2 separate regions of the Homo sapiens genome follow, and region 1 is linked to region 2. Evidence: fine-mapped expression QTL. Tissue or cell type: whole blood. Region 2 holds a variant in brackets; the other region holds the start of a gene. All regions are shown on one strand. Distances are between the middles of the regions.

The links. PIP is the estimated chance that this variant, and not a neighbour inherited with it, causes the effect.
Region 1: SULF2 starts here. The variant in region 2 is fine-mapped to the expression of SULF2 in whole blood (INTERVAL, PIP above 0.99).

What each region holds. Positions count from the first base shown.
Region 1 is chr20:47,783,929-47,786,530 of GRCh38, forward strand. It overlaps SULF2 (sulfatase 2), which reads right to left and starts at 1,553. Exons shown (of 21, transcript NM_001387048.1): 1 at 1,415-1,553. It overlaps LOC124904920 (a long non-coding RNA gene), which reads left to right and starts at 1,826. Exons shown (of 2, transcript XR_007067618.1): 1 at 1,826-2,234; 2 at 2,477-2,602.
Region 2 is chr20:47,683,989-47,686,742 of GRCh38, forward strand. SULF2 (sulfatase 2) reads right to left here. Exons shown (of 21, transcript NM_001387048.1): 6 at 443-593. Among named protein-coding and RNA genes, the nearest start is that of SULF2, 100 kb to the right of the region's middle. The variant T/C (reference allele first, on the strand shown) is at 1,242.

The DNA.
Region 1 (2,602 bases), 100 kb after region 2:
CCCCTTCGTTCTGTCCTCCCTACCCCGTTCCTATACTTAACGATTGGCTCTAATTTAATTAGAACCCTCTGGTGGTTCTGTAATGGGAGGCAGAGGCTGTCAAGAAATCACCTTCACTATTCACTACAAGCTGAAATTTGGAGAGCGCGCAGATCCGGGGGTGTCCTCCAGAGAAAGCCCGTCTCTCCTGCTCCCTGTCTCCCCCTGAGAACCTGCTCCAGCGCAGCCTCCCCTTCTCTGCCCCAAAAGTGGGGGTGGACCCGGTGGGAAACAGGCAGGGGACAGATGGAGGGGCGAGAGGGCGGGTGTCCCAACACGCACAGATGAGCAAATACCCAGATTGAAACGTAAGCTGAATGTAATTACTTGGTTAATTAAATATTGACTTTTAACTCAAAAAGTGATTAAAACAAGCTGCAGGAAGACTTTCCAGAAAGGGGGGCAGGGAATGAATCAAAGCTTTCAAGGGGGAGGAGGAGGAGGAGAGGGTCGTCACAGGCAGGTCTGGCTTGCTCTTCCTACTGTGTGCTGGGCCTACTGCGTGCAGGTGGGGGAGTTGCGGACCGAGGCCAGTGTGCAAACTAGGATTGCAGGCTTCCCTTTCCATCTTCCACCCCGAGACGGCATCTCTCTACCCTGCTGCCCTCCCAGTGAACCGGCAGCTTCTGGCGCGCAGGAGCCAGATCCTGTTCAGCCGCGTTTCCCTGGAACAGAACGCGGTGCCCGGCACGAGGGGGTGCTCCAGAAATGCTTGTAGAACGAATGAACGAACTACTATAAGGAATGTTTGGAAAAGTGCACTCCTAGAATTCACCGCTAGACTTCTGAAACCCCGAGGAGCCGGGGAGGGGAGCATCCCTCCGCCAGGCGATGGAAACTCGTTCTGCCCTGGCCTGGGAGGAAGTCTGCCTTTTCGATCCTGTTTGTCCTTTCGGTGTCTGCGAGTTTCCAACCACTCTGAAGATCCGGCCCACTGCTTCCCCGAGTCCTGCCCGGACAAGCCCCACGTGGGCTGGCATCTACCGGTCCCTTGGGTCTAAACCCTAAGGGTCAACAAGGCCATGCCCCTGCGGATGGCCGGCCCAGGCGCGCTCCCCTACCCGGGGCCGCCTGTGCTCGGTGTGCCGTGTCCGCGGGTCAGGGGCGCGGCGGGAAGTCCTCGCCCGCCCGCCAGCCAGCGGGGTCAAACAGGTCATCCCTCTGCGGACGGCCGGCGCCGGAGCCTCCCTCCCGCCCGCCCGGACCCACCTCCGCAAGCAGCGCTGGGGCTGGAGCCGGGCGGTCCGGACCAGCCCCGGCTCACCTGGGCGGCGCTCGCGGCCGGGCTCACGCCGGGGAAGGCTCCGGCCGCCGCGAGCCCCCGCCCGAGCCCCGCGTCCCCCAGCCACCCACCTGCCCCCCACGCCCCACTCACCAGCGCGCACGGCCCCGGCAACCTCACCCGGAGCGGGGCGCCGCCGCCGCCTCTGCCGCAGCCCGGCCGGGCCGCTGGGCGCAGGGGACTCCGCGCCGCCGCTGCCGCTGCCGCCGCCGCCGCCGCCGCTGCCGCTGCTGCATCCCCCGGCGAGCGCTGCTGCTCCTCCTCCTGCCTCCTCCCCGCCCCCCAACGCCGCCGCCACCGCCCCCGGCCCCCTCCCCGCGCGCCGCCCCAGCCAAAGTCCGGCTCCGCACCCCGCCCGGACCGCTCTTAAATCGCCCCAGCCCGGCCGGCCACGCTGCCCCAGCCAGCCCCTTGGCACGGCGCTACCGCCCCCCGCTCGCCTGCCCGCCGGCCTCCACGCAGGGGAGGCGGGCGCGCTCCGGGGCGGGGAGCGTCGGGCCGGGAGCCGCGGACGGCTGGGGCCCGGGGCGCGGGGGGCCCAGCCGCGGTGCCCTCCTCGAGCCCTCCGCGCGCTAGCGCTTTTACCTCCGGCCTGGGGGACGCGCGGCCCGCGACCCGGCCCTGCCTGTCCCCGGCGCACGGCCCCGGCCCCGGCCCCGAAGTCCAGCTCCGGACGGGGCAGTGAACGCAGAGCTGGGGTCCCGGCGGCTCTCGACCTCCCGATGCCTCCGGACTCGGCTGGCCGCGCTCCCGGCGCCGAGCGCGCACCCTCGCCGGGACACACAGACGCACACTCACTCGACACACTCTCGCTCCTGCTCGCCCTCGGCGGAGAGTTGAAACAGATGTGGGATTCGCCCAGGAGCTGGAAACGAGGGAGGGAAGCGAGCCAGAGCCTTGTGTGCACGTGTGTGTGCGTAACACACAAACCAGGGGGCATCGCTAATAAATCAAATATCGTGATAAATTCAGGAGGGCCATCGATCAGGTCCACTTGGCTGGAAACGACGTGAATCTGCCTCTTTTCCGCTTTCTTCTTCTCCTCTCTCGGAGCTGGAGGGAGCCAAATGTTCCGCGGGGAGTGCGACAGCCCCGGCCGGGCGCTCCCCTCGTAATGACACGTTAATAAATGTTTTCTTTTATCTGCTTTCACAGGACTCGCCCCGGTCTGCAAACACTCGACTGCCTTTGCCGAAAGCCTCGCGCTCGCCTCCAGCCACACACATTTGCCATTGGAGAGGCCGGCGCCGGCCGCGACCCGCAGCTCAATCGCAGGGCAAA
Region 2 (2,754 bases):
GTGAGGGAGATTTAGTGGGCCATCTAAGGGCTGTGAGGTTTCTCTTTGGGGTAAGAAAAATGTCCTAACATGGATGTGGTGATGGTTATACAACTCTGGGCATATTAAAACCACAGAATTGCACACTTTAATTGGGGGAATTGTATGGTATGTGAATTACATCCCAATAAATGTGTTCAAAAATGTAAATAGCAGGAAAAAATATAACTAGCATATATGGTTACCGTATTGGGCAACACAGATCTAGAAAATGTTTCATGAAGGAAGAGGCTTTTGTCTGGATTGCTCCAAGCTGTTCCCCAGGTCTAGCACATGGGGCCTCTTCATTCTGCCTTTGATTTCTATTCCTCCAGGAAAACCCTGAAGGGCCAGGAGGTCTCGGCCCTGGCCTGGCTGGGGGTTCGGAGCCACGCCCACCAAGAGGCATGCAGCGGGCGCCTACCGTCTCCATGGAGTCGTCCACCGACATGAGGGTCTGCAAGCGCTTCCGCTGGAGCATGTTGGTGAATTCCATGTGGATGGGCTTCATGGGCCCCGTGTAGCGCATGATCCAGTGTTTGTCCGGGTTGGGCGCGTAGTTGTAGCTCGGCGTGCTGGTGGGCAAGGACATACACATCGGTCAAACCCAGGGACAGCCTGGACCCTGCCTGGCCCCCGCCAGACCCGCCCGGATGAGCAGCCACCCTGTGCTGTGTCTGCAGCCCAGGGCCAGGTGTGATCTCCTGGTGGGAAAGGGGACATTGGCATGTCAGGGGCTTATCCAAACCCTGTTTCAGCGTTTCTCCACGTGTGAAGTGTGCACTTGGGAAGCTCCTAAGAGGCACAGCATTCAGTGACCTTGAGTGACAAAGTGAGACAGCCAGTCCCTTGTCGGCTCTCTCAGGGCAAAGTCTGTTTGGTGCTAGTGTTTCTTTAACACCTCTCTAGACTTTGCTCGTCTTCCTTTTGAAAAAAGGGAAGAAAGTCAAGTTCAGAGCCTTCATCGGGAACCAGTACCCAACTCAAATTCCATAGCATTGCTTTGTGTGCCTTGTACCTATTATTGGTAGATGGCAGTTACCTTTGGTGAATGGCAGGTGGCAGTTATTGTGGTTAAGGTAGGACCACGGAATATCCTTTTGCAATAGATTTTAGTTTGAAATAATAGAAATGGATTTAAAAATGAAATAAGTCATAGTTTTATGTGTAAGGCCAGAATTGTGAGGAAGGCACCTGAATGTGCACATTTGGGACATGCCACA[T/C]TCTTTTTTATTTTTTGAGACAGTCTCGCTCTGTCGCTCAGGCTGGAGTGCAGGGGCGCAATCTCAGCTCACTGCAACCTCCACCTCCCAGTATGAGTGATTCTCCCGCCTCAGCCTCCCAAGTAGCTGGGACTACAGGCGCGTGCCACCACACCTGGCTAATTTTTTTGTATTTTTAGTAGAAATGGGGTTTCACCATGTTAGCCAGGATGGTCTCGATCTCCTGACCTCGTCATCTGCCCACCTTGGCCTCCCAAAGTGTTGGGATTACAGGCATGAGCCACTGCACCTGGCCTCTTTGTTTTGAGATGGAGTCTTGCTGTGGTCCAGGCTGGAGTGCAGTGGTGGGATCTCAGCTCACTGCAGCCTTTGCCTCCTGGGTTCAAGTGATTCTCCTGCCTCAGCCTCTTTAGTAGCTGGGACTACGGGCTTGTGTCAACACACCTGGCTAATTCTTGTAGTTTTAGTAGAGATGGGGTTTTGCCATGTTGGCCAGGCTGGTCTTGAACTCCTGACCTCAGGTGATCCACCCACCTTGGCCTCCCAAAGTTTTGGCATTACAAGCATGAGCCACTGCACCTGGCATGCTGCTTAATCGTGCAGCAGGAGTGTGTTGGGCAAAGTTCTGTCTGAGCACCTGTGATGTGAGGGATGGAGGGACCCCAAGCAGGTATCTATGATGATATCATGGCAGTGGTTGACTATACCAGCTGCTGGGGTTCGAGCCCCAGTTCTGTCTTTGGCCAGTTAGTCCCCTCCCAAGGCATCAGTTCCCTCATTTCCTACCCAAGGAGAATACAGACAGTGCCAGTTCCCAGGAAGGTTGTGAGCACTGAGGGAGAGGCTGTAAGGGGAACCCTTCTAACCATGGCCAGTGCGTGATGACTGCTTGGGAGAGGTTATCATTGGTGTGTCCCTTTGTCATTAGTAATCACGGGTGACTCCACGGCAGAAGTCAGGTACACTGGGTCTGTCACTCACTCCGTGAGACAGCGGGCAGGTCCCCAAACTTCTCTGATCCTCTCTATTTCCTGGTTAGTCAATGGGAGATTAAACCAAAACCAGAGGAAACATTGTGAGCAAACCAAGAGCACCTCCTTGTCACCTCAGTTTATGCCGGGCCCCTGGCTCCGAGCTACTGAAAACCGCAGCATGGGGGAGTCTCCTGGGTGGGGTGCACCATTGACAGGAGGCACTGTTTAAGGCCTCACAAAACGTGGGCTTCCTCGCCCTGGGCCTGATGGTTCTTGAAGGCCAGGTTCCCTGCAAATCTGGCCTCTCTTCCCAGTCAAGGCTGAAGTAAAGGGTGAGTTTCCACTGCTTTTCACAGTGGGTGTTCTGGGGGCAAGGAGCTCCCGCGAAGAAGAGGAGGAAAAACAAGCCTGGTCAGAGGGGCACAGACATGTCTCCCTCTGGCCTGGTACGTCGGGACTTCAGCAGCGTCTCAGATATCACAATCGTCCGGGGCAGAAATTGTGACGCTGCCGCTGGGGTAGCTTGGCAGCTGTGGACA